Regions from separate parts of the Homo sapiens genome. Here region 1 is linked to region 2. A link means that fine-mapping ties the variant in region 2 to the expression of a gene that starts in the linked region. Tissue or cell type: whole blood. Region 2 holds a variant in brackets; the other region holds the start of a gene. All regions are shown on one strand. Distances are from middle to middle.

Region 1 (4,331 bases), 24 kb after region 2:
ATTCCCCTATCCATTCAGGTATATTTAATGAGCATAAATTCTTGAAACTTACTCTGCTGTTATTGGGGGTACCACTTTGGCAGCATGTCTGTACACTTTGAAGTTTGCAGTCAAGTGGAAAAATACATATGCAAATAAGTAAAATGAAAAATATTATAAGAATGTAAATAATTAGCAGAAGCTCAAGAAAAGCATAAGCAAAGTGTGTCTCAGGTACAGCTGTCCAGAGAAGGGAGGGCTTGGCACTGAGACCTGAAGGACTGGTAGGAATTTGTCCCCTGGAAAACTAGGAGCTGGTCTTTTGGCAGAGAGCAGTAAGGAAAAAAGCACAAAGGCTTGAGGGTGTCTCGTGTAACCAGAAAACTGGGAGAGCTGGGCTTTAGAAGGAATAGAAATGTGAGGCCAGGACTGAAGTGGCAGTGATCAGAGACAGGGCAAGTATTTGAAGATGTTTGCAGAAAGTTAGATTAATGGCAGAGTTTGAGAGTCATGCCAACCTGAGACCACTCCTCTCAACAGACTTTTGACCTAAAGCATATTTTGGAGGCATTCTCTAAGTATCCCCTTCAACTACAATATGGAAATAATAGCACAACTGTATTGATTGATGTTAAATATTAAATCAGAGAGAGTGCATGAATTAGCTATCATATGGTAAGTATTTTTTAAAGAAATGGTTACTATAGATTATTTTTTGTTATTATAATAATCACTGAATGAAAGCTGCAGTGATAATAAAAATGGCAGGAATCAATTAGAGGAAAAAACTTATCAGGACCACAGTTTTGGTTCCAGGCAAAGTGATGTAATGCTTAAACACATTACAGGATACAATTCCTCAAGAGTTTAAGGTAATAATAGCTGTCTACATTTGGTTGTTTATAATTATCAAACCACGACTTGTTTTTGACTAGTGGCTTTCAATTTACCCTATCTTTATCTAATGATCCCTTGATTCCAGAGCTTAAGTTAAATGTTGTGAAGTTAGACATAAACCCCGGAGAGAATTGTTCTATAGGGAGAATCAAAGGAGTAAAGAAACAACAACAAGGTAATATGAGTGAAGTAAATACAGTATTTTTTTATGAAGTTGAAATCATGCTTTACAAAGATTAATGGAAAAACTGGATACACATGTTTCAAAAGGTAGAAAAAATTGTCTGAAAGTTCAGATAGTAAAAAAGAGAAAAGGCAATAGGGAGCCACTGTATGTCCCTGAGCAAAGTTAATTACATTAATAGATCACTAGCAGATAAGCAGAGAGTGTTAACTAACTGGTCAACTTTCCTAATAGAACAAACCTATGTCAAGTCAGTTTCATAAGAATTATGTGACGATCTTCAAAGGTAATAAATGCCTGCAGGGTATTTAAGATTGAGCTATTCGCGGTGAGGAAGGGGGTAGTCATCTGACTTTTTTTATATGACTACAGATTGCTGCGATATGTTATAAGGTTTAGAATTCACTGATCTAGTCCAATTTCTTCCTTTTCCTGTGAGGAGAATGAAGCCAAAGAAGCGTTATGACCTGCTGGAATACTAGCTGCCTAAGTAACTCTATCCCTTAGGCTTTTTCAGCTTCTGTGTATAAGACAGGTGACCTAAAAGTTGTGTGCAGAATGGATTGGAGAGTTAAGTCCTGGAGGGAAGGATACCAGTTAAAAACAATAACAACGGCAAAACAAAACAACTGTGATATTAACCCATGAAATATTATATTAAAGTAGTCAGTATCAGGACCAACGAGAAAGAGGAAAAAATTGAATCACTTTAAACAGACCAAGAATGTAATTCACAATAAGAGATGTCGAAGAAGATAACAATTCAGAGGCTCTCAGATCTGATTCTGCGAAAAAGGTTTGTGATCTGGGCAATTAATTTGGAATCAAAAGAAAGATTTCAGAGTGCATTTCGAAACTTCTAGAATTGTCTCACACAAATAACTTCCTCTGGCTTTCTTTACCCTCCCTTTGATTACCAGAAGCTGAAAGAAAGGAATTAACTTCTTTCTGGCTCAAAGACATCTGGAAAACATATGACCTCCGTCAATATCTCTAACACCAGGTCCCATGATTCAAACTACACACAATCAGTAAGAAAAGGAATTCAACATGTGTGCTATCGGCTCACTTCCTTTCTTGTGTTTATTTCAGAGCAATAAATCAAGTGTTTTCTAAGTTCCTACTCCCAAACTCCTAGTCAGAAAAGGACTCACCTGCCATAGGGAACAGCCTCTGTCCTTTTTTACAGCGTTGGAAAGAGCCTCAGAGTCAAAAATGAAAGTAAACTATGTATTTCCTTATTGCAAAGGGCGGAAACGTGTAATTACAGATTGTGAAACTGCTGCTCAGAATTCCAGACTCATTATCAGGAAGTGCCTTGTCATCAGCAAATTGGCATCCAATTACTGGAATTTAGTTTCTGACTTGGGGGAAAAAAATGAAAATGACAAAATATTATCCTGTGGGTTGACACCTCAGCTTGTTTCTTTTCTTGTTTCCTGTGGCCACCCAAACTTCTTCTATCCATCTGTCTCTTCTCTTCCTGATCTCTCAGTTTTTCTTTCTCTGATTACAAAGAACGACAATGACTGAAGAAGTTTAATCTAACAACTCTTTTTCATTTCCTGATAAGAATTAACCCAATAGTTCATATTTCCAGCTTTTTGGGCAGGCACTGAGCTGCAGGAGTTTTTACATAGTCCAGCAGCTCCCGGAACTCTAGTGAGGCAGGAGTCCCGTCCACTCCCATGGAAAGGGGGCTGAAGCCAGGGAGCAAAATGGCCTTGCAGCAGGTCCATTCTCACAGAAGCCTGCAAGCTTAGATCCGCTGGATTAGAATCCCCACTAGCCAGCATAGCAGCCTGGAGTACGCCAGAGATGACCGAGTTCCCCAGGGGAGGGGCGACTGCCATTACTGCAGCTCTAGTCAGCGGTTTTTCCCTACCAGTGCTAGGGAGGCTGGGCAGATTGGACTGGGCAGCAGTCTTCACAGTGCAGCACAGCCGCTGTGGCAGATCATGGCCAGACTGCTTCTTTAGGTGGGACCGGGATCCATCCCTCCTCTCCCGGCAAGAAATGCTTGCAGGAATTTCAGCAACTCCACCTAGAGTTTACAGACAGAGCTCTCATTTCCCTGGTACAGAGCACCTGCGGAGAGGGGCAGCTGCGGTCTCAGGTTCAGCCAACTTAATCTTTCCTGCCTGCTGGCTCTGAAGAGTATCAGCGATCCAGACAAGGGGGATTCCCCCAGCCCAGTGCACCATCTCTGCTAAGGGATAGCCAGACTCTTTCCTTAAGTGAGTTCCTGATCCTGGGCCTCCTGACTGGGTTAGACCATTCAACAGGGGTTGCCAGACACCTCATACAGGAGAGTTCCAACAGGCGTCAGGTCAGTGATCCTCTGGGAAGAAGCTTCCGGAGGAAGGAGGAGGCAGCACTCTTTGCTGTTCTGCAGCCTCCATTGGTGATACATAGGTGAACAGTGTCTGGAGTAGATCCTCAGCACACTGCAGCAGACCTGCAGAGGAAGGGCCTGAATGTTGGAAGAAAAACAAAAAAAAATAAAACAACAATAACACAGCATCAACAAAAAAGACCCTACAAAAATCCCATCCAAAGGTCAACAGCTTTAAAGATTAAAGGTAGATAAATCCACAAAGATGACGAAAAACCAACGCAAAACCGCTGAAAATTCCAAAAGCTGGAATGCCTTTTCTCCTCAAATGATTTCAACACTTCTCCAGCAAGGGCACAAAACAGGGCTGAAGCTGAGATGGATGAACTGACAGAAGTAGGTATCAGAAAGTGTGTAATGACAAACTTTGCTGAGCTAAAGGATTATATTCTAACCCAAGGCAAAGAAGCTAAGAACCGTGATAAAAGATTACAGGAACTGTTAATTAGAATAACCAGTTTAGAGAGGAATACAAATGACATGATGGAGCTGAGAAACACAGCGTGAGAGCTTCATGATTCAAACACAAGTATCAATAGCCAAATCAACCAGGCAGAAGAAAGAGTATCAGAGCTTGAAGACTATCTTGCTAAAATAAGGCAGGTAGAAAAGATTACAGAAAAAAATAAAAAGCAATGAACAATACCTTCCAGAACTATGGGACTATGTAAAAAGACCAAACCTATGACTGATTGAAGTACCTGAAAGAGATGTGGAGAATGGAGCCAAGTCAAAAAACACACTTCAGGATATCATCCAGGAGAACATCCCCAACCTAGCAAGACAGGTCAACATTCAAATTCAGGAAATTCAGACAGTCCCAGTAAGATACTCCACAAGAAGATCAATCCCAAGACACATAATCGTCAGATTCTC
Region 2 (4,359 bases):
CCACATTTTAGATATTGTGAACAATGCTGCTATAAATGTGGGTGTATAAATATATCTTTGAGACCCTGCTTTCAATTACTTTAGTTATGTACCCATAGGTGGAGTTTCTGGAGCATATGGTAAGTCTACTTCTAATTTTATGAGGCAATACCATACTGTTTTCCAAGGTGGCTGTACCATTTGAAATTCTCACCAATAGAGCACAGGATTCCAATTATTCTACATCCCTTCAAACCCTTGTTATTTTCTGTTTTTTGGGGCTTTTTTTGATGGGAGTCATTCAAATGGGTATGAGGCAGTATCTCACTATAGTTTTCGGCAACATCTTTCATCCTATTGTTGGGGATAAATCAGTCAGTTTTCTTCATCAGCCAAGTATAGATATTTCATGAGCCATAAAGCTCGAAAATCCAGTTAGCTTCCTCCACTTCATTTCCACTCACCCACCATTTTCATTGAGATTATATTCTCTATTAGAAAAAGACACAGTTCGTTTGTCTTCACTTTTATTGAAATACAAAATGTTAAATATGCAAGCTGTACTAATGAAGGTGCTCCTTGAAGTTGATTAAGGAGGGCTGGGCTGCTTGTGGCTTCCTGCAGGGGAGAGAAAAAACAGAAGGTCAAGATGGTTACCCCTTGCTGCCTTCATCCCATCCCTCATCATGATTCTTCTTGCATCCTCTTCCATGTGCTCTTGCCACTTCCCTTGACTTCCATCTGTGACATCTTAGTCTATTCACCAAAATGTGATCTTTGTAAAACCTAATTTAAAGCATATTACTTCTTTTTTCTAAAGCACTAGAAAGGCTTCCTGTCTCGCTCAGATAATAATTTTTAAAGGTTTACCATGTGATAACATAGAACCACGCGATCTGGCTTCTCACTGCTTCTCCTAATTTGTCTCTGCCATTTTCTCCACTCACGTTCTCTTTTGGTCACACTGTCTCATTGCAGTTCTTTAAACATGTTTAGTGCATTGCTATCCCAGGGCATTTGCACTGGCTGTATTCTGTGCTGGAACACTTTTCCTGCATAAGAACCACATTATTCACTCCCCAACTCTGTCCATTCTTTGTTCTGATTTCATTATTTCAAGAAAAGCTTTTGAGTGAAATATCTATAGGAGTACAGCATCCATCATTCTGTGTTTTCCTTTGTCTTCCTTTATTTTTCCTTTTATCTTTTTTTGCTCTCCGGCCTGTGATATATTTACCACTTTATGTCTTCAGAGTCTGTTTCTACTCACTAGAATATAAGCTTTCAGAGTGTAAGAAATCTATTTACGTTGTTAATTGGCATATTCCAAGCATCTAGAACAAAACCTGGTGCACAGTTAGTGTTGGCAAATATTAGTCAACAAACAATTCAATGTCCAAATGCAGCCCCACTGGATGGATTAGGCACTGAAAGCTGTTATGCTGAAATGATGCAATATTGTGACTGAAGTGTCAGAAACCAAGAGTAAAAATTATGTGGTAAATGTTGGAAGTATTGAGAACAACTTTATACATTTCACTATAAAATATAATTTTAAGTATGTATCTTAGAGGGAGATTGATAATAGTCTTATAGTCTAGTGTTAAATAAAGCTATTATGAGTGAAGAAAGTCATCATTTAGTCCAGACTCAATGTACCCATTCTATAATATTTTGGTCAAAATAATAACAAAAGTTACATGGGAGCTTGAAGGAACTTCTGGACTGTGATTGAAGATTCAAAAGCCAACCCTGAGTGATTGGTGATCTGCATTGTGAGAACAGTCTGAGAACCAGAGCCTGGATCAACACAAACTCTACAGTGTAGGATGTATTCTGTACCATCTGGTAATGGTATCTGGATGTCAGTAATGTGGTATTTGCTGTGACATCCTCACTCAGAGGATCAAAATGCTGCTTTCTCCAGAGTTAGCTCCTTTGTTTACTCTGTTTTGTTTAGGGTTTGATGCAATGTTTGGCTACTTAGTGTCTCTCTCTCTCTCTCTCTCTCTCTGTGTGTGTGTGTGTGTGTGTGTGTGTAAGAAAGGGGAATAAAAGAGAAAGACTATGAGAGATAAATGAATATAAATAGTAATGGAAGCATGAGCATGTTTCTATTTTAATAATTACTATCCTTGGTTTTTCATCATCACATTCTGCTGCGGTTTTCCTTACCTCCTTGATTGATTGATTGATTGCCTGATTAATTGTAGAGTTGGAGGAATCCAAATACATGTAAGTCGGAAAGAAGTAGCAGATAATCACCAGACTATATCAACAAAAACACCAATTTGACCATCCAAGTACTCAGCTGTCATTTGTCATTGAACTTAACCACCAATATCACTCTCTTATTTATTTCACATACCACCAACAACTCTCAATACTTAACCATTTTCAATTGCCAGGAAAGAGGTA[G/GA]AAATATCTTGTCATGGACAGTCGTTCTATGGTGGGCATTTGAGCTTTGGCCCTTGGAGTTTCAAATGATTGCTGTACCTGAAAAAGAAAATAGGCTGTAGATGAGATACGACTCTTTTCAAGTCTCAGAAAGCATCTTTCACCATGTACCAGACAACACCTGGAATGAAGTGAGCTTGCAGGTTTCATAGAACCAAGCCCATGGGCATTCTAACTCCTCAACATTGTACCCTACCTCTTAGAATTGCCACTCCATGTCAGACTGTATGCTTTACATCAAAATAAACACCTCATGTCTAATCCAAGGTCTTTCAACATTCATTTCCTCTATTTTCCATTTCTGACCTACAGATCTGACAATAAGTTATCCCTTGAAAACTATTCATGAAAACCAGATAAGGAAGGACTCTGTACTTTCAACACTCACCAAGGCTGATTCCTCAATTGAAGGAGAATTTAATCCCAGTATCTTATCTTTCTTTTTTTTTTTTTTTTTTAAGATGGAGTCTTGCACTGTTGCCTAGGCTGGAGTGCAATGGTGCAACCTCGGCTCACTGCAACCTCCGCCTCCAGAGTTCAAGCAATTCTCCTGCCTCAGCCTCCCAAGTAGCTGAGGTTACAGGTGCCCACCACCACGCCTAGCTAATTGGTTTTTTGTATTTTTAGTAGAGACGTGGTTTCACTATGTTGTCCAGGCTGGTCTCAAACTCCTGACCTCATGATCCTCCTGCCTCTGCCTCCCAAAGTGCTGGGATTACAGGCGTGAGCCACCGTGCCCAGCCCCAGTATCTTATCTTTAAGACCCAAACACTGAACAACTTTCATATCTCCACCACCAAGCTGATCTTGTAGTTTTTTTGCATCAACTAATTGGTAAGTCTACTTATCCTAAATCCAGAATTTTTAGTTCCTTTTTCTATGAACATCCTTGAAAGTACAATGTCTAACTCCCACTTATCCAAGAAGATTTAAAAGATTTAACTTCCCAGATCTCTATTCACAGGAGCTCTGTCTCAATTTATGCTGCATTTCCTCCTCCTTCTCCTCCTCCTTCTTCTTATTTCACTACTTTTCTTTCTTTTTCTTTTTTTAAGACAGGGTCTTACTCTGTCATCCAGGCTAGAGGGTAGTGGTGAAATCTCAGCTCATTGCAACCTCCGCTTCCTGAGCTCAAGCGATTCTCCCATCTCAGCTCTCAGGTAGCTCGGATTACAGGTTCCAGTCAATATGCCCGGCTAATTTTTGTATTTTTTGTAGAGATGGGTTTTGCCATGTTGCCCAGGTTGGCCTCAAATTCCTGGGTTCAAGCCACTCCACCCTCCTTCGGACTCCCAGAGTGCTGGGATTACAGGAATGAGTGACTGTGCTGGTTCTGGATGGCTTTCTTCTATAAACGCCAGAGGTGTATCTTTCTTTTCCCGCAGGAGTTTTACTGTTCTCTACAATTTTTACTTTATTAATAATTATACTATTCTGTGTTAATACCAATCCCATTTTCTCTTTAAACAAGAGGGTGCATTTATCTGTGTATTTATGCATGTATTTATTCAATAATTATTAATTGAATATCTGCTACGTGCCAGGTTTGTTGAATTGCTGAGCAAATCCCTGCCATCACGAAGTTTGCATGTTAGTGAGTAAATACAAGTAAAAAACCAGACACATAAATAAACTATTAATATTTGCTGAGTGGGTAGATGTACGAGCTATGGAGAAAAATAACATAGGAAGTAGTGGGAATAAGGAATGTCCCAAGTTGGGCAAGAAGTAGCAAACCTTTCCTTCTGCACTTTTTTATTGAAAGAATGACTTCTTTTTTGTTCCCTCTCACATGTCTTTATGGATCCTATCACAATCTGTAAGCACATATTTGTTTGTTAACCCACATTTTCAGTATCCATATCTCCCACGAAAATGTGAGTCCTAGATAGGATTACGTCATGTAGGCCTCATTTACCCCTC

The links.
Region 1: CASP4 starts here. The variant in region 2 is fine-mapped to the expression of CASP4 in whole blood (TOPMed, PIP above 0.99).

What each region holds. Positions count from the first base shown.
Region 1 is chr11:104,966,305-104,970,635 of GRCh38, forward strand. CASP4 (caspase 4) reads right to left here and starts at 2,270. Exons shown (of 9, transcript NM_001225.4): 1 at 2,215-2,270. The coding sequence starts at 2,221. It overlaps LOC124902813 (a long non-coding RNA gene), which reads left to right. Exons shown (of 2, transcript XR_007062986.1): 1 at 1-1,856; 2 at 1,981-2,276. RefSeq lists an enhancer at 2,070-3,269.
Region 2 is chr11:104,942,377-104,946,735 of GRCh38, forward strand. CASP4 (caspase 4) reads right to left here. Exons shown (of 9, transcript NM_001225.4): 8 at 2,372-2,475; 9 at 490-597. The coding sequence ends at 2,377. Among named protein-coding and RNA genes, the nearest start is that of CASP4, 24 kb to the right of the region's middle. The variant G/GA (reference allele first, on the strand shown) is at 2,398.